Linked DNA regions of Homo sapiens. The protein of the gene in region 4 interacts with the protein of the main gene of each other region in a biochemical or structural test. Each region holds a gene or a part of one and is shown on either strand. Other genes may lie near its edges.

What was found.
Region 1: the proteins of CHD3 (region 4) and SENP1 form a complex in vitro, tested with the Homo sapiens proteins (one study listed by BioGRID).
Region 2: the proteins of CHD3 (region 4) and MYB form a complex in vitro, tested with the Homo sapiens proteins (one study listed by BioGRID).
Region 3: the proteins of CHD3 (region 4) and ZBED1 form a complex in vitro, tested with the Homo sapiens proteins (one study listed by BioGRID).

The regions. Positions count from the first base shown.
Region 1 is NC_000012.12:48,095,866-48,103,185, reverse strand, and holds part of SENP1 (sentrin-specific protease 1), read left to right. Parts: intron 1-1,669; coding exon of another isoform or gene 1,670-1,713; coding exon 1,714-1,717; intron 1,718-4,031; coding exon of another isoform or gene 4,032-4,124; intron 4,125-5,048; exon of another isoform or gene 5,049-5,061; coding exon 5,062-5,192; intron 5,193-6,758; coding exon 6,759-6,843; intron 6,844-7,320. UniProt on the Homo sapiens protein: Protease that catalyzes two essential functions in the SUMO pathway.
Region 2 is NC_000006.12:135,184,123-135,191,442, forward strand, and holds part of MYB (transcriptional activator Myb), read left to right. Parts: intron 1-1,780; coding exon 1,781-1,898; intron 1,899-3,711; coding exon 3,712-3,783; intron 3,784-5,668; coding exon 5,669-5,761; intron 5,762-6,004; coding exon 6,005-6,225; intron 6,226-7,320. UniProt on the Homo sapiens protein: Transcriptional activator; DNA-binding protein that specifically recognize the sequence 5'-YAAC[GT]G-3'. Plays an important role in the control of proliferation and differentiation of hematopoietic progenitor cells.
Region 3 is NC_000023.11:2,497,971-2,506,201, forward strand, and holds the start of ZBED1 (E3 SUMO-protein ligase ZBED1), read right to left. Parts: upstream 3,007-8,231; 5' UTR 2,956-3,006; coding exon of another isoform or gene 2,847-2,955; intron 2,656-2,846; exon of another isoform or gene 2,341-2,655; intron 1-2,340. Other genes in the region: DHRSX (polyprenol dehydrogenase), read right to left, coding at 2,847-2,955.
Region 4 is NC_000017.11:7,905,725-7,913,044, forward strand, and holds the end of CHD3 (chromodomain-helicase-DNA-binding protein 3), read left to right. Parts: intron 1-131; coding exon 132-265; intron 266-398; exon of another isoform or gene 399-536; intron 537-828; coding exon 829-973; intron 974-1,144; coding exon 1,145-1,307; intron 1,308-1,401; coding exon 1,402-1,523; intron 1,524-1,628; coding exon 1,629-1,764; intron 1,765-1,876; coding exon 1,877-1,978; intron 1,979-2,166; coding exon of another isoform or gene 2,167-2,169; coding exon 2,170-2,295; intron 2,296-2,677; coding exon 2,678-2,786; intron 2,787-2,972; coding exon 2,973-3,105; intron 3,106-3,418; coding exon 3,419-3,614; coding exon of another isoform or gene 3,615-3,660; intron 3,661-4,703; coding exon 4,704-4,867; intron 4,868-5,122; coding exon 5,123-5,249; intron 5,250-5,739; coding exon 5,740-5,861; coding exon of another isoform or gene 5,862-5,980; 3' UTR 5,981-7,031; downstream 7,032-7,320.

The DNA.
Region 1 (7,320 bases), on a different chromosome or scaffold from region 4:
ATTATTCTGTTGGGCACCAAGCTTTTAAGTTGGCATTCTTCTTAATAATAATTTTAAAAAGGCTAGTAATGACAATTATGAAGCAACTTTAAAATGTCAAAAAAGTGTTGCTAATATATTAGTTGATAAGATTTTTTCCCCCTTAATCTGGAACCCAAGGGAGTCTACTCTATTAAAGAAGAAAGAAGGGGAAAGAATAACCTGAAGAATTTTTAGTAAAGAAGCCTTTTAAGTTGAGCATTTGGAAATATATTTGAAGCATAAATCTAAGGCTTAAATTCTTTAGGGATCCTTCCTGGCAAGACTAGGTAATCAGATAATTACTCTGCTTAGTCTATAGCTATGCCAAGAAAACTTTTTTTTTTTTTTTTTTTTGAGACGGAGTCTCGCCCTGTCGCCCAGGCTGGAGTGCAGTGGCCAGTGGCGTGGTCTCGTACGCCAAGAAAACTTTAAGCTGCCTTCCTTTGTGTGACTTTCATTATTGTGACCACAAAGAATGCCTATTATCATCATCCAGCCTCATGAATACATTGAAGCCCTAGTATTGCTATGTGGTTGATGAAGTGCTTAATATTTTTTAAAAATATGGTTATAAGATTATAAATATATATAGGTGTGACTATTACCATCCCTAGTAGCCTCCTCCTCTTGGAAATCTACCAAGACCATATGTGCCGAGGATATGTTTATTAACCTAGTTCCAAGCAGTTTGGTTGTGTTTTTGTGTTTGGTTTTTTTTTTTTTTTTTTTTTTTGAGACAGAGTCTTGCTCTGTCGCCCAGGCTGGAGTGCAGTGGCATGATCTCGGCTTACTGCAACCTCTGCTTCCTGGGTTCAAGCAATTCTTCTGTCTCAGCCTCCTGAATAGCTGGGATTACAGGCACGTATCACCACACCTGGCTAATTGTTGTATTTTTAGTAGAGATGGGTTTTCACCATGTTGGCCAGGCTGGCCTCCAAGTCTTGACCTCCTTGGCCAAGTGATCTGCCCTCCTCGGCCTCCCAAAGTGTTGGGATTACAGGCGTGAGCCACTGCACCCGGCCAGCAGTTTGGTTTTTAACATCTTTATTTTGTGGAAAAAGTGGATACATCAGAGGAGACAGTAATTTTTATATAGGCAAAGGGGCTTTGGTTTGTAGCAGTTTGATTGATGATGTTGGGGGAAGTACTTTGTATTACTCCAGAGTAGTTCTTGATTGTCATTAGAGTATCAGGCTACTGAGTAAGACATGGAAGAAAAGTCTTAATAGGACCATCACAAAGTCTGTCACTTGTTTATGAAGTGATTTAGCATGAGGTAATAGAACAATGGATTGGGAAGAATTTCTAGGTTATAATTTCGGTGTAGTTGCTAACATTATGACTTTATGCAAACCACTCAGTCTCTTAAGGGTTGGCGCTCCCAATTTGCTTCTTGCTTTAATATTCTGTGATTCTGTGCGTAGTCTGTAATTGCTGTTTAATGTAGTACAGGTTGCAGAAATGTTTGGAAGTACCTCAAGCTAGTTTTAGTTTTTACTCTTTTCCCATCAAGTCAACTCTTTACCACCTTAGATTTTTCTCCACTAAGAACACAAACAAATGTCACTTCTAGTGGCTGCACCTTCTAAAATTAAGTGAAGTAGGTGTTTCAGTATGTAATTTTTCTGTTTTGTGTCTTCTTTTATAGGACTTTGTATCTTTGCTAAAGTCAGTGATGTGAAAAGACTTGAAATGGGTAAGACTAACTAGCTGTTGAATCCTTTTAGCTACTTTCATTGGTTAAGCTGTAGTGAAAGAATGGGTTTTCCTAACATTTTCAGTATTTGTATCTTTGTGCTTAATAATAATTTTAAGAGAAATTTTAATCCTAATTATGTAATACTATATACCAAACAAAATTATTATTATTGCTATTTTTGAAACGTAGTCTTGCTCTGTCACCCAGGCTGGAGTGCAGTAGCACAATCTCAGCTCACTGCAACCTCTGTCTCCTGGGTTCAAGCAATTCTCCTGCCTCAGCCTCCCAAGTAGCTGGGATTACAGGCATGTGCCACCACGTCCGGCTGATTTTCGTATTTTTAGTAGAGACGGGGTTTCGCCATGTTGGCCAGGCTGGTCTCAAACCCCTGACCTCAGGTGATCGGCCCACCTCAGCCTCTCAAAGTGCTGGGATTACAGGCATGAGCCACCGCACCCAGCCCACATAATTATCTTTTGGTTAGAACATTGTTTATATGCTCATTTAGGAGTATTATCTCATTGATTGTATTGAAAAAGTTAAGTATACCCTAGCAAACATTTACTGTGTACTAGACCCTGTTCTAAGTATTTAAAATATATTGGTTCATTTAATCCTTATAACCATCTTACAAGGGTACCTAATAGTACCTACCAAGTAGGTTACTGTTGTTATCCCTATTATATCACAAGGAAACTGAGACACAGAAGTTAAGAAGCTCGCCTAGAGTCATGTACTATAACTGGCTGAGCCAGGATTTAAACCTAGGCACTCTGGTTCTAGAGTTTTCTAGAGTTCTCGTTCTTTTTTTTTTTTTCTCTTTTTTCTTTTGAGACGGAGTCTCGCTCTGTCACCCAGGCTGGAGTGTAGTGGTATGATCTCAGCTCACTGCAACCTCTGCCTCCTGGGTTCAAGCAATCCCCCTGTCTCAGCCTCCCAGGTAGCTGGGATTACAAACATGCGTGCGCCGCCAAGTCCGGCTAATTTTTGTATTTTCGGTAGAGATGGGGTTTCGCCATGTTGGCCAGGCTGGTCTTGAACTCCTGACCTCACGTGATCCGCCTGCCTTGGCCTCCCACAGTGCTGAGATTACAGGGGTGAGCCACTGCGCCCAGCCAAGAGTTCTTGTTCCTTAGTACTATGTTATACTACTTCTAAATGATAAATAATTTGATTAATGTAAATATTCTATTTCATTTAGCTAGTGTTACTGAGAATTGTGGTTAGGACATTTTTCACTATTTCATTTGTAGTACTTTATGTCTGTTAAGGGGATCAATATAAGGTCAGGACTAGTAGCTAATTTAGGAATAAGTTGAAAAATCTATACACTTAGGTCTTATAACATCCCATATGTTCCTTTTACATTCACATTAGCTTTCTCTCTATTCTGTGTTTTCCTTTTCCTTAGTCTGCCTTCTCCTTCCCTGTTCATTTGTTTCCATTTTCTCTCATTGCTGATAGCAGTGTAAGTCGTTGAATTCTGTTACGTTTATTGCTTCTATTCTAGCTCTTCTATAGTAACAAAGGTATCAAAAATGGTTCTGAAGTAAAATTCTGCCATAATATTATAGTTATTGAGCTGATACCTGTTAAGAGCAATATGAATAAAATTATGCTTTTAAAAAAATGTTCAGGCAGATTATTATTATTATTAGAGACAGGGTCTCACTCTCTTGCCTAGGCTGGAGTGCAGTGGTGTTATCTTGGCTCACTCCATCCTCTGCCTTGGGTTCAAGCGATTCTCATGCTTCAGCCTCCAAGTAGCTAGGATTACAGGCATGTGCCACTATGCCTGGTGTATTTTTAGTAGAGATGGGGTTTTGCCATGTTAGCCAGGCTGGTCTCAAACTCCTGGCCTCAAGTAAGTGATCCGCCCACCTCAGCCTCCCAGAGTGCTGGGATTACAGGTGTGAGCCACCACACCTGGCAGGTGGATTACTTCTTAAAGCACTTCTTTGTGTTAAAACAGGAAATGAACCAGTGTTAACAGTGTGTGTTACTGAATGGTGAATTTTTTCCCCCAATTTTTTTATATTTAAAATTTTTTCTATAGTTAAAATATTTAAAAAGTTTCTTTTGGGAGCATTTTTGTTTTTTGTTTGTGTTTTTCTTTGTTGTTGTTGTTGTTGTTTTCTGAGACAGGGTCTCACTCTGTCACCCAGGCTGGAGTGCAGTGACTCTGTCATGGCTCACTGCAGCCTTGACCTCCCCGGGCTCAGAGTATCCTTCCAGGTCGGCCTCCTGAGTAGCTGGGACTACAGGCATGCACCACCATGTCTGGCTAATGTTTTGTTTTGTTTTTTAATAGAGACAAGATTTTGCCTTATTTCCCAGGCTGGTCTCGAACTCCTGGGCTCAAGCCATTCGTCTGCCTCAGCCTCCCAAAGTGCTAGTATTACAGGTGTGAGCCACCTTGCCTGGTCTCGTTATTTTTAAAGCTTTAAATTAAGCTGTTTTTATATGTGTACAAGTTTTGAACTGTTTGGTAGATGGCCTCAATTAATTCCAAATGAGCCAATTTCTGCACATGGACCTCTTTTGACAATGACAATATGAGATTTTTGCCATTGGTTAGCTATGAAAGAGGGATTTTATTTTATTGCAGAGTTGTTCTTCAAGTTCTTTTTTGTCTTTTTTTATTATTATTGTTAGACATAGGGTCTCCCTCTGTCCCCCAGGCTGGAGTGCAGTGGTGTGATGATAGCTCACTGTAAATTTGAACTCATGGGCTCAAAACAGTCCTCCTGCCTCAGCTTCCCAAGTGGTTGAGGCTACAGACACGTGCCACATTGGCTGGCTAACTTTTTTTTTTTTTTTTTGAGATGGAGTTTTGCTCTTGTTGCCCAGGCTGGAGTGCAGTGGCACGATCTTGGCCCACTGCAACCTCTGCCTCCCAGGGTCAAGCAATTCTCCTGCCTCAGCCTCCCGAGTAGCTGGGATTACAGGTACCCGCCACCATGCCTGGCTAATTTTTGTATTTCTGGTAGAGACAGGGTTTCACCATGTTGGCCAGGCTGGTCTTGAACTCCTGACCCCGTGATCCACCCGCCTCAACCTCCCAAAGTGCTGGGATTACAGGTGTGAGCCACCACACCTGACCTGCTGGCTAATTTTTAAATTTTTTTGTAGAGACAGGGTCTTACTATGTTGCCTAGATAGATCTTGAACTTTTGGCCTCAAAAAAATCCTCCTGCCTCAGCCTCTCAGAGTGCTGGGATTACAGGCATGAGACACCATGCCTGGGTGGGAATTGTTTTTATTAGGTGAAAAGATTGGTTCATAGGAAAAACGTTATTGAAGAATTATGTGACTTGAACTAATCCAGACTGTCTCCCCAGATGATATTGCTGATAGGATGAGGATGGATGCTGGAGAAGTGACTTTAGTGAACCACAACTCCGTATTCAAAACCCACCTCCTGCCACAAACAGGTTTTCCAGAGGACCAGCTTTCGCTTTCTGACCAGCAGGTTAGGAGCAATTTTCTTCCTTTAATTAATTAATTATTTGGGCTCATCATAAGTTTTCATCTTATGTAGTTTAAATGCCACACTCAAAAATACAAGCATAGCTATAAACTTTTTAGAATCAGTAATTTTAGTGTTTGGAATTCTGCTCTATATATTAAAATTAAGACAAGGACGTTAAGACAAAATAGGCTATGTATGAGTTCTTTGAGAACAGTACGTTTTAGAAAACTCATTGTTCCTCTGAATTTTAAAATTACTTATATGCAGATCAGTGTTCTTTTAAACTAGCACCTAAAATTGCTGAGCATTAAATGGGGGAGAAATGTGAAAATATACAGCAGCTCTAAGATGTCTGTGCTATAATGCCTGATTTCTCAAGGTCTAGTTCGGGACCAGCAGCATCAACATTACTTGGGAGCTTGATAGAAATGCAGACTCTCAGGCTTTACCTCATATCACTGAATCAGAATTTATATTTTAAAAACATCCTCATTTGATTTATATGCACATGAAAGTGTGGGGAGCACTATTAAGCAGTCTTTTTCAATAGGAAAGCCATTAGTAATTTGGATGAGATCATTCTTTGATGTGTGAATCTTTCCTAATTATAGTAGGATGTTTAGCATCCATGAGCCCTAGGCACTAAATTCCTGTAACATCCACCTCCCCCCATAATCATTTTAATAGTTAATATATATCCACACATTTCCAGATATGTACTCAGGGTATAGCACCACCTCTGATTAAGAGCTATCTCTGTAAAGTTATCAAAAGAACCAAAACCAGATTGATTTTTCTCAACCTTTTTAATATGTGTTATAAATGGCTTTCAGACAGGATGTACTAAATACATATTTACCTTCTAGTGAACATTCTTTGAATTAAATTGTATAACAAATATTTTGCCTGTTTTTTTCCTTGAAGCCTGAATTATTTCATTAGATTGTCTATGTGTTTTCCTTTCTTGTTAGTATGTAGTATTAATACGTATAATATATAAATATAATTATATTGAGTTCTGAAATAGTCTTAGTTCTGCTATAGTCTTTATTTAGAGACGGGGTCTCTCCATGTTGTCCATTGCTAGTCTTGAAGTCCTGGGTTCAAGTGATTCTTCTGCCTCGGCTTTGCAAAGTGCTGAGATTATAGGCATGAGCCACTGCACCTGGCTTATAGTCTTGTTTAATTATATATTTTTCCTAGTATATGTTTTTATTTTATTGTTAAAAAAGTGACATGGCCGGGCGCGGTGGCTCACGCCTGTAATCCCAGCATTTTGGGAGGCCGAGGTGGGCGGATCACCTGAGGTCAGGAGTTCAAGACCAGCCTGGCCAACATGGTGAAACCCCGTCTCTACTAAAAATACAAAAATTAGCCAGGTGTGATGGCGCGTGCCTGTAATCCCAGCTACTCAGGAGGCTGAGGCAGGAGAATCACTTGAACTCAGGAGGCGGAGGTTGCAGTGAGCAGAGATTGTGCCGGTGTACTCCAGCCTGGGCAACAAGAGTGAGACTGTCTCAAAAAAAAAAAAAATGTGACTTAAGAAAAATCTTCTGCTTTGTTTAGATTTTATCTTCCAGGCAAGGACATTTGGACCGATCTTTTACATGTTCCACAAGAAGTGCAGCTTATAATCCAAGCTATTACTCAGGTATGACACATTACTTGGAGTCAAGGGACTTTATACCTTTTGGATTTCTTGATAGCATATCGTTTATGTTTATCATCTCCAAAAGTAAAAACATTGTCAAAAACAAGATGGTATTTTCTTCACTAAAACATCATTTGAATGGCTTTTCCTGTGTATGTGGTTGCTATGATACTTTACTGATTTTGTCTCATCCAAATACTGGTTTTCTAGTGGGAAAGTGTTTTGAGAATCTAACTGTCCATTATGCCATTGTAAAAAGCAATACAACTTTGTTTTTGACCTTTTTTTGGGAATATGTGTATGTGATGTGTGTAAAGGGTGTTTGTTTTGCGTTAATTTAAATCACAGAGCAAGTTTATTTCTGTTCTGCTTGAAACCATGAAACCTGAAAATTTATTTCTTCCTGAGCTTGTCCTTCTTTCAGGGCAGGAAATGTTAACTACATGTTTCTGTCTAGCACCTGCCACAGCCATATGC
Region 2 (7,320 bases), on a different chromosome or scaffold from region 4:
GCTCAGTTCTGAAAATGTGACCTCTAGATCCAGCCAAACCTGAAAAGTTAATTCGACTTGAATCTATGACTGCAGTTTCAGATTCCTCTGGTTTTCTTGGTGTCTCTCACATTTCACAAGGGACTGCATTTGGGGTCTTTCCAAGGAGTTCCCTATGAATCTTTCAAAAGATGCAGACTTACACCTCTGGGCTTTATAGCTTTTTTTTTTTTTTTTTTTTTTTGCTTTATCATATCGTGTTTTACATTTTTGTAGTTCTTGTTCAGAAGTTGTTTAGTGCCTCCTGTTGACAGTGGAAACAGAACTAGGCTATTGTTTCAAAACACAGACACTAAATGAAAGGAATTATTACAGATTATAAATATATATTTCCTGGGATTTTATTTGGTGGTGGTGGTATTTTAAATTTGGATTACATCATGTCGCCATTCAACCTGGACTATCAGATTGTTGCTTAAAATAATAGCTTTAAATTATGAGAACCCCCAATTCAGGATTTTTGGTAAGCACTTCAGCTTCACTTGTAGGGGGCTGGTAATATGCATACCAGTGAGTTAGTTTGGGAAGACAAAACCTGTAATGAATATAACTTTTCTTTTTAAAAACAATGATTTACATTATGATATGGCTTTATATCATTGTTTTTATTGGTCTTAGTTTAATGGGTTTCCCAACATTGCAATGACAAATTTTAGTGAAGTTTCTAAGATAGTATTTTTCCTATTTTAAGTTTTATAAGAAAAACTATAAAATAAACCGTGTCTGTAAAATTATTGTCATCTGATCAGTTGATTAGATTAACAAACATTATGATTATGATTAACAAACAGTAAGCATATAGTTACTTCTTCAAAAGTCATAAAATTTCCTAGGTTAGGTTAACTAAATAAAAGAAAAAGCTTTCGAAAATAGTAATGGGTTCTTTTAAATCCATGGCTTTTTTCTGGGGAAATCCCTTCTGGATTAGGTTACATTTTATAATATTTCAAACACCATTCCATCAGAGACAGAAAAAACAAGAGTAAGTAAGACTCTGACTAACAAGTGGCCTAATTATTCACTTAGTTACTCTAGAAACTAAGTATTGTAAACATGGGCACAAGTTGGATCAACCAGGCCTGGAGTTGTGAGCAATTTGGTATTAATTTTATTTACAAAACATTAAAGCTTGATCACTCAATGTTCTTATCTTTGCTTTGGTTTTAAAATCCTTTCCTCTTAGATTCTCCTAATCCTCTAGACTTTATGGGATCACTATAATTCTGTTTTGCGCTGTACTACTTCTTGATTTTTTTCTTCTTTTAATAAAACAAAAACCCCATTGGAATAGCATAGTTGAATTGTTTATTATGTTTGAGAAATATTATTTAAACGATGTGACAGATGCCAAAGATTTTGAGTGTGCACTTATATAAAGGACATGGGTTCTTGTTCCTTTTCTTATCCTTAACCTTAAGTTTTCAACTTAAACCTTCACTGGTTGGAAGGTGGCCAAATGTGTAACTTGTCCCTGGTCTAATAGTAACAGCAGGTTCAGACATGCAGGGGAATAGGAAGGTGCCAGGTCCTTGGCCGTGTCTGTGGATACCCATAACAGCAGAACCAGTTTACAATACTAGAGCAACAGAATGCAGCAAACAATCTTGTTGTGCAAGTTTTCAAAGTTTTGTCTTCATAACCTTTGAAAAGATTGTTGAGGAGTTTTGTGTAAGTTTTGTAATCCAGTAGTAGTCTAAATCCTCTTGTTTCAGCCCACGTCTACCCATTCTTATTTCTGCAGCATATATAGCAGTGACGAGGATGATGAGGACTTTGAGATGTGTGACCATGACTATGATGGGCTGCTTCCCAAGTCTGGAAAGCGTCACTTGGGGAAAACAAGGTGGACCCGGGAAGAGGTAACTAATCATTTTATCAAGACGCAGAAAATAGATAGAGTGTATAATTTATAAAAAACAAAATTTCAACTAAACTACAGGTGCTCAAGCTCATTAGCAGGCTCCTTGAGATCTTATCCTAGCCCGCATGTGCAGCGTGCCCTATGCCCCCCACTTCATTATATTATCCATTTCCACACTATTTGCAGTTCTTTGAATGTCCTCTTCTCATTTTAGGCTTCATCTGTGTTTCCTTTTGCCTGTTGAGTTCTCATCCTTTTGTCCCACCTCTTCTTCCTACTTTTACATTACCCATGAAGGCATCACCTCTTCTGTGAAGCCATCCCTGGCTTCGCCGGACAGGATTGGATGCATCCTCCTGTGATCCCATGCATGGGTGCATGTTCTACTTTATTGTTGCTGGGACATATATACCTCCTCCAGCTGACTGCAAGTCTGTTGAGGGCAGGGCTCTTGTCTATTCATCTTTGTGTTTCCTGAATTCACAAATGCTTGGACCCAAAATAGGATATTAATAAATGTTCTCTCAATAAGTGAATGACTTGCTACTCCCAAAAACAAAACAAACAAAAGAATAAAACAAAACACTCAGAGAACTCATCTTTTTACAGTGTATTGATTTAATATCCTTGATATACTTAACAGAGCCATCTATATGAAGGTATGTTTTAAAATCATCCGATAATGGATGGAGACACATCTGCTTCTCCTGTTTCTTTTTCGGCTGGCTTATCAAAAGTTTGATTTTGTAGGAATGGAAAAATATTTTAGAAGCAAAATTATTAATATGTGGAGAAAAGTTTCTCTAATGTTCTTAAAATTTTTGCAACTAATTTTAGATGATTCATGTTACAATAAATGGTATTGGCTCTTCTTCAGTTTCACTGTTCTCTGCTTCATTTAAACCAGAGCTCCTTTTAACAGGCAGGTAGGATTCCCAGAGAGGCCCATAGGAAATTCATATTTTACCTATTAAGATTATCCACTTGGATAATCCTTATGATACGGAAATTCTGTTGTCAACATTGGTTTCCTAATTCTTGTGTCTGTATTGTACCAGGGACCTCCACTGTGTGTGAATGTTACCTTTGCAGAAACATAAGAAGGAATGCATTTATATACTTATGAACTGGTAGGATTGTGAACAGCATATAAACTAAAAGAACTGATTAGCTGGAAATGTTTAATGTCTTTTATGTTCTAACACATCTGGCCTATCTAAATCTAACTGATTTTCTTATATAGCTTTCAAATTTAATTTTAAAAATGGTCTTTATTTCTTTATAAAAAGTTAAACTAACTGGAAATATTCTATTTCTTGCTCAAGATCCTATTTATTACCATAGGTAAATGTGTACTGAATCTAGCACTGGAATGCATTTTTTCCTAACAGAGTAAAGCAGTTATTTATAATAAACACTCAATATATGCCAGGCATTATGATAAATGTTTTGCAAAATTGCCTCATGTAATCCCCAAATAACCCTGTTAATATCAGCCTCATGTTAATAAATTGCCCCATGTAATCCCCAAATAACCCTGTTAATTTCCATTTTATAGATGGCAATACTAAGGCCCAGAAAGGTAAAATGGTATACCCGCTTTACACAATTAATAGTTGAGTCAAGATGCCAACTCTGGTCTGATTCTAAATAAATCTATACTCCCAAGTCCGTATATTACATTAATATCTCCTGTATTCGGATACTTTAGAGAGACTTTTTATTCTAGATTCGTTCCCTCATTCACTTTAACTTGAACAGAGTTATATAGTAAATAACTGATATCCTAGGATTACCTTTAAATGTCTTAGGATGAAAAACTGAAGAAGCTGGTGGAACAGAATGGAACAGATGACTGGAAAGTTATTGCCAATTATCTCCCGGTAAGTTAGTAAGTTTTTCTTATAACGAAAGGAAAGCTTCTCCCAAAGATTTCTATAAAATATTCTAGGAGGAGTTATTAAGATAGTGTATAATTTACTCACATTTAAGAAGTGGGAGAAATGCCCTACCCATAACTTATATTTTATATTATAATGCATATAATTAAATTATTAGAATTTAGATTATTAGAATCGATTATTATAATTTAGATTATCAAATTTTAAAAACAGTTGCTTCTTGTTTTATCTTTTCATTTATAGGATAATTAGTATTTTGATGATTTGTTACATGGTAGTTGATTAAACTTGATATTTCCTCCAAGTCAGTTTTTCCTGAATTCCCTATTTTTGTCAATAGCAATACTTTTGGCACCAAGGTTTAAAATTCTGAAGACCTTTCTTGACTTATCACATTCCCCCAACCCCTACATCTAAGCAGTTACTAAGGACCCTGGAATTCCTTTATAGTCAGTCCCGTCCTTTTCATTCTCATGGCTGTGCTGAAGGTTGGGCTCCTGCCCTCTCATTTGGACTATCATATAACTTCCTAACTGGCTTCCCCACTTGTAGTTTTCCATTTTTCTTTCTTTTTTTTTTTTTTGTTTTTTGTTTTTTGTTTTTTGAGATGGAATCTAGCTTTGTTGCCCAGGCTGGAGTGCAGTGGCACGATCTCAGCTCACTGCAACCTCCGCCTCCCAGGTTCAAGCGATTCTCGTGCCTCAGCCCCCTTAGTAGATGGGATCACAGGTGCCCGCCACCATGCCTGGCTAATTTTTGTATTTTTAGTAGAGACAAGGTTTCACCATATTGATCAGGCTGGTCCCAAACTCCTGACCTCAAGTGATCTGCCCACCTCAGCCTCCCGAAGTGCTAGGATTGCAGGCATGAGCCACCGTGCCCAGCCAGTCTTCTACTTTTCCATTCATCCCAAACACCATTGGCAGGTGGAACTTCCTAAAATGCAGCTGTACCTTATCTTTTCAAAACCAACCACAGTGACAGAATCTCACAAATTAAGTAAACTGCCTTGACTTGGCACACAGAGGCCCTCCTCTATTGCCCCAACTTACAGCTCCAGTTCTGTTTCCTGCTTCCTCTCTCTAAGCAGGTTTGCTTGAATTTATTTCTGCTTTACCTCCTCTGGGCTTTTGCTCCTGGTCTTCCCACCTCCTAGAATATTCTCCCTTTATGTCACCAATTAAAGTTCTGTCCATCCTTCAAAGTCCTTATGAAGAGCTCTTCAAGACTCCTCCCAAGGAAACCATTTCTCCTCCTAAGAAGATGCTTCTCTCCTCACTTCAGTATCATTTTGCTTTGGTCTTTTCTTCCAAGTGAATCAAATTCAGCATCTGTGATAGTCAGTCATCTACTTGTCTTTTCCTTCTTATAAGTTTACAAACTCCTGTAACATAGGACCTATCTTTTATGCATCTTTTTTCTTTCTGCAATATAAATACTTTGGTCCTGGATTGAAGCACATCTCTTGTCTGAATGGGAAGCAAACTTTAGTCTTTTAGGGTGGTTTCCATGAAAGCCTGACAACATAGAATCTCTATCAAGCCTCAGGCTATGTAGATACTCTGCAAAAGTATCTGAGGTTAAGGTTAACTTGGCAGGCACATGTGTAGTATGATGGTCCTTTAGATCATGTGGCAGGAATGTTTCCCTCAGGAGGCAGAGTGTCTAATTTTAGATGCAACTTTGATATATTACTTGCATGTTCTGTAGCCTGTAAGTAATGAGGGATAGATGGGCTCTAAACATGCTCTAAAATGTTCTTAAATATTTTCACTGCATATGGTCTATGTGTGATTCCTATTACAACAAAAAATTCACGTGCTTATCACATCATATCTTTATGGTGGTGCATACTTTATTTGTCTAGAATCGAACAGATGTGCAGTGCCAGCACCGATGGCAGAAAGTACTAAACCCTGAGCTCATCAAGGGTCCTTGGACCAAAGAAGAAGATCAGAGAGTAAGTTCTTTCTTCATTGGTGTGTGACTCATAATTAAGAATATTCCCAAAATGCTAATATTTTCCTATTTGAGGAAGCAGGTAAAATGGGCAAACAGGAAGTAGAGGACTCTATTCCCATATTTCCAGTGAATGAAAGCAAATTTTGGAAATTTTCTAAAGATCTTGTAACACTGAAGAATGATTATACTGACTCATTACATAACTTTAAAACATAGGTTATTTTTGTGTGTTTATCTGAAGGTGATAGAGCTTGTACAGAAATACGGTCCGAAACGTTGGTCTGTTATTGCCAAGCACTTAAAGGGGAGAATTGGAAAACAATGTAGGGAGAGGTGGCATAACCACTTGAATCCAGAAGTTAAGAAAACCTCCTGGACAGAAGAGGAAGACAGAATTATTTACCAGGCACACAAGAGACTGGGGAACAGATGGGCAGAAATCGCAAAGCTACTGCCTGGACGGTAATAATATGTCAAAAAATATATTGATCGGGAAGAATGAGGGAGTGGGTATTGAACATTCTGCTTTAAATGTATGGTGAGTAAATTATATTTCATCAGTCGTAAGTGTTTTATTAGATAAACCAGCTACATAGCTTTTAGAGATTGAAGACATCTTAGAGTTTATTTGGTTGAGAACTTCCAGGATCCACCTGACAGTGAGCCCTGGGTGAAGACATTTAGCTTTCCCCAGCCTCAATTTCCCCATTTCCAAAATGAATCATACAGGGCCAGTGTTAGGATCAAGTAAAATGAATGTCAAAGGACTTGGTAAACTATAAAACTCTAAATGCATAGAAAGAAACTGAAGACAGTTTGTCTCTGGCAGTTCACGTAGCTGGTTAAGTTACTCAAAGGAACTCAGCTACCATTTTCCTGATAACCATCATTCATTTCTTTTATTTTTTTTAATTATTATTTTTTAGAGACAGAGGCTTGTTCTGTCACACATGAGTGACAGAGTGCAGTGGCATGATCATAGCTCAATACATCCTTGAACTCCTGGGCTCAAGGGATCCTCCCACCTCAGCTTCTTGAGTAGCTAGGACTACAGGTGCACCCCACTACACCCAGCTGATTTTAAAATATTTTTTGTAGAGATGGAATCCTGCTATGTTACCCAGGCTGGTATCAAACTCCTGGCCTCAAACAATCCTTTCACCTCCCAAAGTGCTGGGATTATAGGCATGGGCCACCATACCTGGCCACCAGTATTCATTTCATTATACCACTTTGCTTAATTTTTTACTTCATTGATTAAAGAAATAATGTATTTCTTGAATTCTCATACTACTTCCAGGTTTTTAAATAATGTCAGGGTAATAATGCTTTCTTTTTAATGAACAAGGCAAGAAAATGACCTCATTATGAGGGATAACTATGGAAGCTCATTTTGTCCCATTTTTCCCACTTAAGTAGTATATAACAGATTTTGTTCCTTTGGAAAGCAATACTTTTAATGATAAATCTTGCATTAAAATGATGTAGATCAAAAATATTAAAAATAGTTTTATTCTTGAGCTTCATAATCCAGGAGAAAGTTTATATAGTATTCTC
Region 3 (8,231 bases), on a different chromosome or scaffold from region 4:
AGTCTTAAGAACACAGAGACAGACCCTCTTATGGGAATTCTCAATTTGCTTCTAAACCCCCTCTGTAAAGGCATGACCAACATCTATGATTAATTTGTAATTATCTTGTTTTTCCATGATGAACTGTAAGAAGACACCATTTAGGAGTGGATTCCAGCCACAATTTCTTCCTTCTCATACCATGTAAGTCAACTCATGTGGAAGGTGTAACCCAGGCATTTCCTTTGTACGATACCTAAGAAGAACACGCTCCATTTGGAAGTTCTAAGAAAAAACTGCCCTTGCTTCCAATCTGCAGTGGGGAAATTGGCCCTCTTGGTTATTCAAACAGCTTAGCTCAAATGCCCTGGACAAAGTTCAATGTTTCCTCACCAACAGCGAAGGCCTACCAGAGAGAAGCAAATAAAAAATGCCGTTTAGGAAGCTGGCCACCAGCAGACCAAGGACAACAGCATTCCTCCACTGGTATCGAAAATTATTTTTAATCCATACATAGGAAGGGGCTCGATGAGGGCAAGCCACTTAAGTTAATCTTTAGAGAAGGCCATTCTGTTTCGATACACACCCGGGTACAGATTCCCTTGGCAGACACGTGACTTCACCAGAAGCTCGTCCTCTTTAACAACCTTCTGTTGTTGTTTAATCAGTAAATGGGAAAAAAAAAAAAAAAAAAGATTCCAGCCCTTTTTCTAATGCACAAAGAGCAAGTTTTTCAAAGGCCAGCATTTTGGTGAGCTGCTGCAGGAACCCCGGCCTCTTCTGCCAGGGCCCACACAGGCCCTTAAGGAGGTTTAAGGGGACCTTTCTGTAAGCAAAACTGCCCGGATAAACATAATCTTCTGCGAGACTCCACACAATTGTTCAGCAGCTGTAAACCGTTCACCTTGCAACTGATTACTTACTTCAAACAAACATGCTCTCCTGCCCTCCGAAAGCCTGACTACAGTTCCCTTTACTCTCCTTCTTCTATGCATTTGTAATTATGCTAAGTGGGTTTAAAAAAAAATACTGAAGGCCAGTTTGGCAGAAAAAGAAAAGCTTAGCTCACAGAAAACTCAAAGCTCTTTTTCTCTGGCTAGAGGCGGGAGAGAGAGGCTCATTTTAAAACATCCACTCCAGGCACGCTTCTCAAAGGGTGGCGCTGGGACCCCTGGGATTCCTTCAGTGGGTGCAGAGTGGAAGTCAAAAGTCATTTCACAATAAGGCACCCAAGCGCTTCGCCTGGCTGACTCCCAGTCTCCCAGAGGCGTGCAGTAGTGTCTTCCAGAGGCCTCCTGACATGCCATGAAACTGTCTACAGAGGCAGAAATAACAGCTCTCTTCTTAGGCTGGACATTTAAGACATTCAGGGCAACGTACACCCCCACCCCCACCACACTGACCCTCTGAACGCTCTGTTTTGGAAAACTGTTATTTTTGAAACAAAGTATCATTTAACCTAACATGGAATTAACATTCCCTTTATTCCAGTTCACAAATAATTGTTTACAGGTTTCTAGGTTTAAATTGAGAATATGGGCTGGGCACAGTGGCGCTCTGTCTGTAATCCCAGCAGTTTGGGAGGCCCAGACTGGAGGATTGCTGCAGGCCAGGGGTTCAAGACCAGCCTGGGCAACATGGTGAGATGCCATCTCTACAAAAAATTTAAAACATTAGCCAGGCGTGGTGGCTCACGCCTGTAAACCCAGCACTTTGGGGGACCCAGGTAGGAGGATTGCTTCGGCCCATGAGTTTCAGACCAGCCTGGGCAACGTAGCAAGACCCTATTGCTACACAAAAAAATTAAAACATTAGACAGGTGTGGTGGCTCACACCTGTAATCCCAACAGTTTGGGAGGCAAAGGAAGGAAGATCGCTTGAGCCCAGGAGTTCGAGACCAGCCTGAGCAACATAGCAAGACCCCGTCTACAAAACTTTAAAACATTAGTCGGATGCAGTAGCTGGTGCCTGTAATGCCAGCACTTTGGGAGGCTGAGGCAGGAGGACTGCTTGAGCCCAGGAGTTCGAGAGTAGCCTCGGCAACAGAGCAAGACTTCATCTCTACTTCCTATTACAAAAAATAATAATAATAATAAATTCTGAACCTGCAAATCTAGGAACAGAAGTTATCTGCATACACAAAACACAGTGGCGGTCATCACTGATGAGTTCAGACAGTGAACGAGTCCTGCAAAGTTGGAGATCTGTGACTCAGAGATGTTTACAAAGGCCAAGGAAACAAAGTTGCCACTTAACGGGCCTGCCCTCCCCACCAGACCTCCGTGGCTCCCCAGTGCCCGAGAAGCCGCCTCTGGGCCCCCTCTGGAGACGTCCTCCGGAGAAGGGCCCATCCTCACTTACCCTGGGGTGGGTAGGGGTCGAGGTCCCTGGGACGCCCGCTCCTCCCCTCCGGGGCCTGGCGGGGGCGCGCGGTCACTGGCCGACCGCAGGCGGCAGGCAGAGCCGCCTGATGTCTTGGGCGCGGGGCGTGCGAGCCCCCGGGTCCCCGGCCATGGCCCGGAGGTGTCAGGGTGCGCGGGGGGGCGGCTGCACGGGGGCTGCTTGGTTGGAGCCCGACCCGGGACAGGCGGGGAGGCCACACGCGCGGGGAGGGAAGGGTCGGGCCGGGTCGGGCCGGGCCAGGCGCGCAGAAGAGCCGGCGGGGACGGAAAGCGCGGGGCGGGGAGGTCCCAGCGCGCACGCCGCCCCCCCCCCACCCCCGGCCACACCTCGACCCCCGCCCAGCCCCACTTCCGGGAGCGCCACCGCCTCGCCAAGGTCACGCGGAGCCCCCGCGCCCCCGCCCCCGAGCCAGCCCGCGCCCACCCGGGTCCCCGGAGCCCTGACCCCTGCCCCGCCCCGCTGACCTGGCTCCAGGAAGCCCCCGCGGCAGCGCCGCAGCAGCTGCGCCAGGATCACCGCGGCGCCTACCGCGTAGACCCGCAGGGCCGCCCGCGCCGCAGACAATGGCGACATGGCTGCCCCGGCCGCGCCGCCGCCGCTTCCGCGCCGCCCGCGGGACTCTGCGCCCGCCCGCCCGGACGGACGGCGGAAACGCGCGCGCCCCGGACCGCCCCCTGCCCGCCCCGAACCGCCCCGGCCTGCGGGGAACCCCCAACCCCAGACCCCGCCCGGGCCCTCTGGGATCCCGCACCGCCTGCAGGACTGGGGACCCCGAGCGGACAACCGACCCCAGCCAGGACACCCCCCCCAGGACCACAGACTCCAGCCAGGAACCCCCCCCTGCAAGGACCATAGACTTCAGCCAGGACCCCCCCCCCCAGGACCACAGACCCCAGCCAGGACGCCCCCAGGACCACTGACCCCAGTCAGGACCCCCCCTTCAGGACCACAGACCCCAGCAGGGACCCCCCACACACACCCCCAGCCAGGACCACAGACCCCAGCCAGGAATCCCCCCCAGGACCACAGACCCCAGCAGGGACCCTCCACACCTCCTCCAGGACCACAGACCCCAGCAGGGACCCTTCCCCCTCCCGGCAGGACTGCAGACCCCAGCAGGGATCCCCACCACCACAAGACCAACAGCCCCAGCCAGGACGCCCCCAGGACTACAGACCCCAGCCAGCACCCAAGTCAGATCCATAGACTCCTCCCAAGAACACCCCCCAGGACCCCAGACCCCTGCTGGGACCCCCAAGACCACAGGCCCCCCCACTGGGGCACGCCCAGACACCCCACCAAGAACCCCACCAGGACTACAGACCTCCACCAGGACTCCCCAGTACCACAGATCCTCCCAGGGCCCCCCAGGACCACAGACCTCCACTGGGACCCCCACCACCAGGACCCCTCTCCAGGATCACAGACCCCTACTGGGGCCCCCTTCTAGGACCTCCACCTCCATCACAACCACCCCCCGGACCACAGGCCCCAGCCAGCACCCCACAAGACCACAGACCCCTGCCAGGACGCCCCCCAGGACTACAGACCCCAGCTGGACTGCCTCTCCAAGACCCCACACTCCAGCCAAGACCATGGAACCCCATTCAAGCCCCAGCCAGGACCCCCACCATGGGATCACAGATCCCCTACCCAGACCCTGCAGGGGACCAGGACCACCACGGGAACCACCCTCCCCATCTTAGCCAGAATCATGTAACCCCACGCAGACCTCAGCAGGGACCACAAGGACTTGGACCCCATAGGGAACCCCAGACAACCACCCAGAGCCATGCCAGGATTATGGACCAGGACTCCCACAGAGGACTCTGAACAGCTGTAAGGACCATGGACCCCACACCCTAATTCGTACTGACACCACAGAACCTGCCCCAAGCACGGACCCCACACCCCAGTTCCTGCTGACACCACAGAACCTGCCCCAAGCACGGACCCCACACCCCAGTTCCTACTGAGACCACAGACCCCACCCCAATTCCTGCCAGGCCACAGACACCACCCACCAAACCTACCCCTCCACTTCCCTGCCCCCAACAACCCTGCAGGGATCACAGACCCCCTTCCCGGCCCCTGCAGAGAACTCCAGACTACTTCAGGGACCACGAGCCCCCTCCCCACCCTGATCCCTACTGGGACAGCAGACCCCTACTCAGACCTTGGTTGGGAACCCCAGACAACCACAGAGTTACCTGGGCTCCCTCAGGGAACCCCAGACCAGCACAGAACCCCCACCCAGACCCTTACCAGGGCCAAGGCTGAAATCCCACATGGACCCCCCAGCAGACTCCTACTGGAATTCTTCATGGAACCCCCCACCCAGACACTCAGACCTTCACCCCACCACAACCCTCCCAGTCCCACACCTGGTCCCCCAGGGGACCCCAGACCTGGCATCCGGGACTCCACACAGATCCTAACACCCGCTGTGTTTGGGAGACAGGAGCCTGGGAGAGCTGGGGTGACACCATTTTAATCATCAACTCCATCTTAAAAACCAGGAAGACACATTCCTTGCCGGTCACGGCCCATGGTCATAAGATGTTTACGGCTGAAGAAATGACTTAATAATGCCTCCAAGGACAAACACAGACGACAGCGGAATGTCTGGATGTCGCCATATCGCGTAACCACATATGCTGTTAAAGATAATTACAGTCATGCATGGACGTGCTTGGGCGCGAAAATGCAAAGGATGGCTCTCTCTAAATCAACTAAGGAATAAATGTCACGCCGTCAGACATAACCTAGCTTTTACATAGATAAGACAGACCCCTATAGAAGGAAGCTTTAAAACAAACACAAGGTGTTACACCTCTATGACAAAACAGTTTCTTTTTTTTTCTTTCTTTCTTTTTCTTTTTTTTTTTTTTTGAGACAGAGTCTGGCTCTGTGGCCTAGGCTGGAGTGCAGTGGCGCAACCTCAGCTCACTGCAACCTCCACCTCCCAGATTCAAGAGAGTCTCCTCTCTCAGCCTCCCTGGTAGCTGGGATTACAGGCATGCACCAGCACACCCAAATAATTTTCGTATTTTTAATAGAGATGGGATTTCACCATGTTGGCCTGGCTGGTCTCAAACTCCTGACCTCAGGTAATCTGCCCACCTCGGCCGCCCAAAGTGCTGGGATTACAGGTATGAGCCACCACACCCAGCATGTAATGGAATAGTTTCTAATAAACTAAAACTTCCCTGTACTCTTATGACTTACCTTGAATTACTTCTTGAGCAATATCCAAGAACCCACTCTTGGGGGCTAGATCGGGACCCCTCTCCTGCAACACTGGGACCCTAAATCACCAACCCTATCATCCCCAGGACCCAGACCTCCACCTTCACTCTAGGTCTGCACCCTCATACACGTGCCGATGGGCACCCCCCAGCCCCTGCCGAGGTCCAGGAGTGAGAATCTCCACCAGCAAGTCACCTGACCCTAGCCAGGAACTCTATCCCTGCTGGGAGCCAGAACCCCACACTCCACATCTCACTGGGACCCTGGCACCTTGCAGGGCCACAACCTATCTGGAACTTTGGCCCCCATTGGGATGCATCCCCACTCCCATAGGAATTGAACCCTCCAGGCCTCACTCCCCACAGAACCTCAACAGGCACTAAGGGGCACCCCCAGTGTGCAGGTTGCACCCAGCCACTGGGTGGGCTCTGGTGCAGATCTAAGATGATTGGAATACAGAGACCTACCCGGCGACCTCAGGTGTGGCCAGGTGACCAAGCTGGGTTAAGAAGGGTCTTTGTGGCCTTTGCAACCCTCTGTCCTACAGATGAGGAAACTGAGGCCAGGAAGACCAAGGGATGGGGCTGTCCCATTTGGCCAAGTGTGCCAGGTATCTTCACATGTGCCCAAGTATGCTCAGGTGTCGCCAGGTATGCTCAGGTGTGATTCAGTAACCAGGTTGGATTAAGAAGGCTCCTTGTGGGCCAGGTGCAGCGCCTCACGCGCACAATCCCAGCACTTTGGGAGGCTGAGAAGGGTGGATTGCTTGAGCCCAGGCGTTCGAGACCTGCCTGGGCAACATAACAAAACCTGTCTTTATTATTTTTATATAAAAAAATTAAATTAAAAAAGAGGGCTTCTCCAGGCACAGTGACTCACGCCTGTAATCCCAGCACTTTGGGGGGCCAAGGCGGGCAGATCACCTGAGGTCGGGAGTTCGAGACCAGCCTGGCCAACATGGAGAAACTCTGTCTCTACTAAAAATACAAAATTAGCTGGAAATAATGGCGCATGCCTGTAATCCCAGCTACTCAGGAGGCTGAGGCAGGAGAATTGCTTGAACCCAGGAGGCGGAGGTTGCAGTGAGCCGAGATTGCTCCATTGCACTCTAGCCTGGGCAACAAGAGGGAAACTCCATCTCAAAAAAAAAAAAAGGTTATTCCAGCCTTTGCAACCTTCTGTCCTACAGATGAGAAAACTGAAGCTTTCTCGTTTGGCCATGTGTCCAGATATCCTGAGGCGTGCCCAGGTATCCTCAGGTGTGACCAGGTATGCCTAGGTGTGGCCAGGGCACCCAGCCAGAAGCATTGGGAAAATCCACAGTCACCCCTGTCCCCACCTTAAAGTTTTCCCAGGAGAGCTGCCGTTGCATGGGGTGTGAAACCGTGACCCCACTGCCAAATTCAGAAGGACCAAGGATTCCACCAGGAGCAGCAGGGGAGTGGGCTTATTGTAGCCCGACATGCTCCTCCCTTTGGGGACTTCTGGTAGTTATCTAAAAGGATGTTTGTGAGCAAAAGGATAGTGACGTCTAGAGCCATGAATTGGGGGGCTAAAAGCAGAATGCATCACCTGGTGCTTCCAGCAATGGTTTGGGAGACACCCCTACCTTCCCCACAACCCACTTATCTTCTCAGAGGCTCATTTCATCATCTGTCATATATTGACTTTGATTTCCATGTGAATGTTTTTAGCCACTGCTGTAATAAATGGCCACGAATGTAGCAGCTTTAAACAACACAAAGTTATTATCTCAAGTCTGCAGGTAAGATGTCCCAAAAACGGGCTCAACCGGGTCACTTGCTCAAGGTCACTGATATGGTTTCGCTGTGTCCCCTCCCAAATCTCATCTTGAATTGTAGCTCCCATAATTCTCATGTGTTGTGGGAGGGACCCAGTGGGAGATAACTGAGTCATGGGGGCGGTTTCTCGCACACTGTTCTCATGGCAGTGAATAAGTCTCATGAGATCTGATGGGGTTTTTTTTTATTTGTTATTTTTGTTTTGTTTTGTTTTGTTTTGAGACAGAGTTTCACTCTTGTTGCCCAGGCTGGAGTGCAATGGCAGGATCTCGGCTCACTGCAACCTCTGCCCCCCGGTTCAAGAGATTCTCCTGCATCAGCCTTGCGAGTAGCTGGGATTACAGGCTTGTGCCACCATGCCTGGCTAATTTTTTGTATTTTTAGTAGAGATGGGGTTTCACCATGTTGGCCAGGCTGGTCTCGAACTCCTGACCTCAGCTGATCCACCCACCTTGGCCTCCCAAAGTGCTAGGATTACAGGCGTGAGCCACCGTGCCCAGCAATCTGATGGTTTTATAAGGGGAAATCCCTTTCGCTTGGCTCTCTCTGTCTTGTCTGCAGCCATATAAAACGTGCTTTTCACCTTCTGCCATGATCGTGAGGCCTCCCCAGTCACATGGAGCTGTGAGTCCATTAAAGGTCTTTTTTTTTTCTGAGATGGAGTTTTCGCTCTTGTTGCCAAGGCTGGAGTGCAATAGCATGATCTCAGCTCACTGCAGCCTCTACCTCCCAGGTTCAAGCAATTCTCCTGCCTCAGCCTCCGGAGTAGCTGGGATTACAGGTGCCCACCACCACGCC
Region 4 (7,320 bases):
GTTCCTGAGTTCTCCAAGAGGGCATGAGGGCAGGAGGTTGGAAGTTGGTGCCTGGATCACTGAAGGTAGAAAGGACAAGACCTAAGAACCCTAGACATTTGTCGCCATTGCCTCCTTGCTCCCACCCTCAGGTGCTGGGCTTCAACACCCGTCAGCGGAAGGCTTTCCTCAATGCTGTGATGCGCTGGGGGATGCCACCACAGGATGCCTTCACCACACAGTGGCTGGTGCGGGACCTGAGGGGCAAGACTGAGAAGGAGTTTAAGTGAGTGTGGGTGATACAGGGCTGAGTTGGACGCAAGGGGAAGAGCTTTGGGTGTTCCTTTCTTCCTTGGGGCCGCCATATGATGTGACCTTACTCAACTGATTATCACCCTCCCTGTCATACAATACTTCCTGGCTCGATTTCCTGGGGGGTGGTCTCAGCCCACTCCACCTCCCCTCAGCCGAGCCTAGAGTAGAGGGGCCAGGCATCCTCCCCAGGGGAGGGGCGTTGAAGCAAGGAGCCTCTCCTGGGCTGTCCTAGCCTCACATTTACTTGACCACAATAACCTGGCAGGAGGAGCTGGTGGAAAGGATGAAGAGCTGACTGATGGGGCCCAGGAATTAAGTACCAAGGCCAAAGGGAAAGACCCAGGGGTGGGGCGCAGGGGGACAGTTAGGACTTGGAGGGCTGGTAATGGTGAGAGTGAGAGGCCCAGGGGAGGAGCCCTGGAGCACCTGGGGATTTGGGGGTTTGGGGGTCCTCAGTCATCCTCGCGCCTCCCTCACTGCCCTATACCCCTTCTGTGGCTCCCCTAACCCTCCTCCCACTCCCATGCTCCTTAGGGCCTATGTGTCTTTGTTCATGCGCCATCTGTGTGAGCCTGGGGCAGACGGCTCTGAAACCTTTGCCGATGGGGTCCCTCGGGAGGGACTGAGTCGCCAGCAGGTGTTGACCCGCATTGGAGTCATGTCTCTCGTCAAAAAGAAGGTATCAGTCTTCCTGTCACCCAAAGAATCAAGCTGGCTGCCTAGTCTCTGTCCTTCCTCTGCCTCTGTCCCTGAGTTGTAAGCTTGCGCTGGTGTGAGACGGAGGAGACTGGAGCTTCCTGTCTGTAAGCGCCTGGAGCTGACACCTAACCCTCCCACCCTGCCACCCCAGGTGCAGGAGTTTGAGCACATCAATGGGCGTTGGTCAATGCCGGAACTGATGCCTGACCCCAGCGCCGATTCTAAGCGCTCCTCCAGAGCCTCCTCTCCTACCAAAACGTCTCCCACCACTCCTGAGGCTTCTGCTACCAACAGTCCCTGCACCTCTAAACCTGGTAATCAGAAGTCAGGATGGTGGGAGAGACAGAAAGGGAGCCAGGAGTCAGGGCGGGAGAATCTCTGTCTTTATCACTGTGCCTTCCCCTGCAGCTACTCCAGCTCCAAGTGAGAAAGGAGAAGGCATAAGGACACCTCTTGAGAAGGAGGAAGCTGAAAACCAGGAGGAAAAGCCAGAGAAGAACAGCAGAATTGGGGAGAAGATGGAGACAGAGGTGTGTGGCTCCCTGGATTCCCCTGTGGAGCGGGAGGGGAGGGGGCTTGGAGGCCAGGTACCTGGGAGCCCTCTGGCTCATCCTGACCCCATTGTCCTCTTCCAGGCTGATGCCCCCAGCCCAGCCCCATCACTTGGGGAGCGGCTGGAGCCAAGGAAGATTCCTCTAGAGGATGAGGTGCCAGGGGTGCCTGGAGAGATGGAGCCTGAACCTGGGTACCGTGGGGACAGAGAGAAGTCAGGTGGGTGCATGGCCTTAGGAGTGATGGGGGATTAGAATTTGGGATTTCCCTCTTCTGGGGTCAGGGGATGAGGGTAACATCCTCCCTTCCTATCCCCTACCCCCTCCCACAGCCACAGAGTCGACGCCAGGAGAAAGGGGGGAGGAGAAGCCGTTGGATGGACAGGAACACAGGGAGAGGCCGGAGGGGGAAACAGGGGATTTGGGCAAGAGAGGTAATGGGTGGAAGGGACCGGACACCTGGGTCCCAGAGGGCATCAGGGGAGGTGGAGTCTGGGGAACCGAATGCTTGGGTCCTGGGCGGGTAGCTGTTTGAAAGGCCAGTACAGTACAGTACAGATAGTAGTCTTGGGACCTGGGAGGAGGGTGTCCTGAGGTGTGAGCTTTGACCTGTCTGTCCTAGCAGAAGATGTAAAAGGTGACCGGGAGCTTCGACCAGGGCCTCGAGATGAGCCACGGTCCAATGGGCGACGAGAGGAAAAGACAGAGAAGCCCCGGTTCATGTTCAATATCGCCGATGGTGGCTTCACAGGTTGGGGAGACTCTCGCTGCTTTCTGCTCCTCAAGGGGATCTGCTCATCCTCATGGGGTTTCTCGTTTTGCCTGAGGCTTCCTGCTACCTTTAATTCCAAGTAACTTCCAATGAAGTATGTTGCATGCTGACTCCGATCCTTGCTCTAAATCTTTCTTAAGTATCCCTCTTAACTCCAAAGCTGGCCCTAATCCCACCTTTATTCTTAATTCTAACGAACCTGGTTAGAACTGAGTTTGTTCCAAACCTAACCTTTACCCATTCCTCTTCAGGAGCCCTTAGTTCCCTTTCATTATTCAGTTTCTCCATCTCTACCTGTCTGTTGGACTGAGTGCAGTCTGCAAAACCCTGTTACCTCTTCTGTCTGCTGCCTTCTTTGCAGAGCTTCACACACTGTGGCAGAATGAGGAACGGGCAGCTATTTCCTCGGGGAAACTCAATGAGATCTGGCACAGAAGACATGACTATTGGCTTCTGGCTGGGATTGTCCTGTATCCTTTGATACACATGCAAGAAGGAAAAGGTTCTCTCAAGCTGGCAAAAAAAAAAAAGATGATTTCACACCCAGGGACAGGGCTAGTGCCACACTTTGGGGAGTCAAGCCAAAAGGAAGAAGTGTTCAAAGCCAAGCCCATTCCTGTTAAATTCCTTGATGGTTCCTTTTCCTTCATTGGTAGCCATGGCTATGCACGGTGGCAGGACATCCAGAATGATGCTCAATTTGCCATTATCAACGAGCCATTTAAAACTGAAGCCAATAAGGGGAACTTTCTGGAGATGAAAAATAAGTTCCTGGCCCGGAGGTTCAAGGTGGGAATGAGGGAGGAAAGGAGCGGGTTATAGACGGGCTTGGGTCAGAAGTGAGACCAGATCTAGTTGGAACCTAGGGAAGGTTAACACCTTCAGGGCTGAGGTGATACCTGGGGCCAAGACCAAAGTGTAACCTTGTGCTTGGGAGTGTGATCTGGGTCAGGGTTGCTGCTAGGTTCGCAGTCGGTTTGGAGCTGGGAGTGCCCTGGGCCAGCAGTGAGGGCAGGGTGGGTCTCTTGCTATGTCCGCCCCCCCAGCCCCTCACCCACTGCTGGCAGAGCCCTACCTTCACCTCCCAACTCTGTGCCCTCAGCTCCTGGAGCAGGCGCTGGTGATTGAGGAGCAGCTGCGGCGGGCGGCCTACCTGAACCTGTCGCAGGAGCCGGCGCACCCCGCCATGGCCCTCCACGCCCGCTTCGCCGAGGCCGAGTGCCTGGCCGAGAGCCACCAGCACCTCTCCAAGGAGTCGCTGGCGGGGAACAAGCCGGCCAACGCCGTCCTGCACAAGGGTAAGGGCCGCGGCGGCCCCGCGCGGGGGAGGGCCCACAACGCTGCGTAAGTCTTCACCCCGCACCCCTCAAAATCTTCCCACCCCCTGACCCCTCTACCTGCTGAACCATCCCCCTCTGACCTCTAACCCCACTCCTACCGACCTGGCACCCCCTTGGATTTTAGCCTCTAGGACTTGTGCAAGCCAACCCTCATCCATGTCTGATAGCATTCACATCCGTGCCCAATAGAGGGACCTGCCCCAGCCTCTGTGTCCCCTCCACACAGTGGGGCCTCTTCACTGGCAGTGGAACTGCATGCCTGCCATACTGCTTAACATCATCCAGTTAGGGGCCTTGGACTGTGAATGCACCATACAGATCCCTGGCTGTGATCAAACAAATCACATTCCCTCACATGTGTTTCACCCCATAAGGCAGAAACTACCACCCATCCAACCCTCTGGCCTTACCCCATGAAACTTCCCTTTGACCTTCGACCTTTCCTCCTACCCCCTCTCACCTTGCCATTGATAGAGATTATATCCCAAAGCCCTCTAACCATCTAATCCTGCCTGGTGTAGTCACTGACTCCTGGCCCCTTTGATCCCTGTTCTAATTCCTTGAATCTGTAATACTGACCTTCTAACCTCCCTCTCCCCTTACATATTAAAACCGTGATTCCTTAAAGCTTTGACACTTACCACCTCCCATGCCTCCTGACTATTTCCTCCCCATCATCCCCAACCCCAAACCTTGCTCTTCCAGTATGAGATGTTCTGACAACTCCCCGCCCCCATGTCTTCCAATGTCCCCCCATCTTCCTTTCCTCCATGCTCCCTTTTTCTTTCTTCTTTCTCTCCATCTGTCTTCTGTGGTAATCTGGTCTCTCTGTCTCTTTTCCTGACACTTTTTCTTTTCCCCTGAGTTGCTTCTGTTTTCCATCTACTTCTTTTACTTTCTTGATCTCTGGTTCTTTGACATCTGTGTTCTCCTCTCTCGCTCTTTTTCTGCCTGTATCTGTCCATCTGATGCCTCTCTTTTCCTGGCTCCATCTCTGTATTTCCCTGTCTTTCTCTTGCCCTTCTTTCTCTGTGGCCCGGGCCCCAGTTCTGAACCAGCTGGAGGAGTTGCTGAGCGACATGAAGGCGGACGTGACCCGCCTGCCAGCCACGCTGTCCCGAATACCCCCCATCGCAGCCCGCCTTCAGATGTCCGAGCGCAGCATCCTCAGCCGGCTGGCCAGCAAGGGCACGGAGCCTCACCCCACACCGGTAACCCTCTTTCCCCCTAGCTCCAGTTTTCCCTGTTTGTGTTCCTCCTGCACACATACAAACACTTCCATCAGAATCCTATACAATATGGAAAAACAACTTGCTAGAACACAGTCATCACCCTTGAGTGAGTCTCCCTGCCTGTGTATCCTACCCTTAGCAGTTGTGGAGTGTGGCTCATAATGTCTCTCCTACAGCTTCTTTCCTCTCACAGACTATGAACTAACTCCAACTTCTGCTTCCTCTCTGTTCCAGGCCTACCCGCCGGGTCCCTACGCTACACCTCCGGGGTACGGGGCGGCCTTCAGCGCCGCACCCGTAGGGGCCCTGGCCGCCGCAGGCGCCAATTACAGCCAGATGCCTGCAGGGTCCTTCATCACAGGTCAGCTGGTGTTTTCCTACCCCCTGCTACTCACACTCCTCCTTTGCCAAACTTTATTTCTGCTCAGCTGCCCTTTAACTGCTCTAGTCCATCTCATTTCCTTGGTGGTATCCGGTGTTTTATGGGATAGAGTTGTTCTAGGCTGTCCCCCCACCCATCCCTTTCTTAACCCCTCTTCAGTCCCCTTTATTAAAAACCAGAGTTTTAGTAGATCTGTGGCTTGGTGTCTTCTACCCGAGCCACCTCCCTCCGGGTTCCTTCAAGGGAAAGTGAATATGAAACCCGAGGGGTTAGAGAGTGGGAACATGTGTTCAATCATGTAGCACAAAGTGGAATCTCAGGGAAAGGGGTTTGCCCGGGTCTTCCCTCCCTCACGTGGGACAACGGGAAGTGGCAGGAGGTGACCTAGAAGTGAGAATTCACCATTGTCATGAAGTGACGTTTGAGAGTGATCTGGAGATTGATCTTTCCTTACCCCTTTCCCAAACAGCCGCCACCAACGGCCCTCCAGTGCTTGTGAAGAAGGAGAAGGAAATGGTGGGGGCATTGGTGTCAGACGGGCTGGATCGGAAGGAGCCCCGAGCCGGGGAGGTGATCTGTATAGACGACTGACTGGATCCCAGGCCTGCCCTTCACCCAGGCCCCGTCCCCGAGGCCGACCCCCAGCTCAAGCGCTGGGGCCTGCTGCCAGCCCTCCACCTTCCCCACCCCTTGGGCCATCACTGGGCTAGGAACCCCTTTGCCCCTCTCTGCAGCTCCTCTCTTCAAGAAGGGCCCTTTGTCTTTCTCCACTCCCACACACCTTTCCCACCAAGCCTTGAAGACTGTGCTGGTGAGAAGAAGTCTGGGTGGGAGATGGCTGGCAGGGTCTTCCAAGTACCTTCCTCCCACACTGCCAAGTATACACAACTTCCCAGTAAATGGTTGTGGGGAGGAAAGAGGTGGAGCCTCCCCAGCCGTTTCCCTGCAGAATCAGCTCTGTCTCATGTGGAAGTGGAGAATCAGCCTTGCCTGGCCTTTAGGAACTTTTGTGGGGAAGAGAGCTTTGAAGAGAGGAGGGGGACTTTAGAGAGGGATGAAAATGAGCCCTGGGAGGGAGGAAGGGACGAGGAGGGGTGGCTGCATGTTACCGTCCCCTACCTCTCCCCACGTGGAGGGTGGAGCAGTTATGAGGGAGGAAGTCAACTGCTGTTCAGCCTCAGAATAAAGGTGCCGTTCACTGGCTCAGTTACCTCCTGTGTACCGGCATCTTGTGTTGGGAATGTTCCCCCCTCCCTAGGGACCAAGGACCACCCCTACAAAAAGAGTAATGGTTGGGTGATACTCCCTCAAGCCAAAGAGGAGCTCCCCAACCTGTTCTAGGGACCCAGGTAACCTAGAAGGGTGGGAGAGAATACAATGGGCCAGATGTGGTGGAAGCCCAGCTCTGGGGCTCAGGTTCCTGGAAGACTTCTACTACCCTCCCTCCTCAAGGCCTGGATACAGACTAAATTTGTATAAGTCAGGCAGGGGACCTAGTCAGGGTCTTGGGAGCTACCTTGTCGTTGGGACCAGAGCAAAATAGTGGAGGGCAGGCTAGGGAAATGTGGGCACATCCCCCCTCCCAGGAGGGGCCGGGGAGAGTGGCAGTTTGCATGGCGAACCCCCCACTTCCTCTTTGCTGCCCCTTCACTTTCTTGCTGCCCCTTTCCCAGTCTCTCTTCACACCCACTCCTGGTCTGTCCTGATCCCCTCTTCTGTATCAGGTTTATTGGTTGTACATATAAATTATACTTTCCTTTCTGTGTGCTCTGTTATTTTTTATGGGGGGGGGGAGTTTTTGGGGGGAGGGATAAGAAAGGTTGTTGCTTTCTGCCTTTTCTTTTTAAAAAAATCCTACAACTTTTTCCTTTTCCTCATTTTTATCTCTTAGATTATTCACTAAAACTGAGGTTCTTCCAGCCCCAGCTATGTCATGGCCTCTGTAGAGAAGGAGGGTGAGCAGCAGATACCTACGTAGCCTCAGGTTGACTTCAGAGAGAGTGGGACTTACTGGACAGAAATGTAGTGGGAGGAGCGCCTATCAAGATTC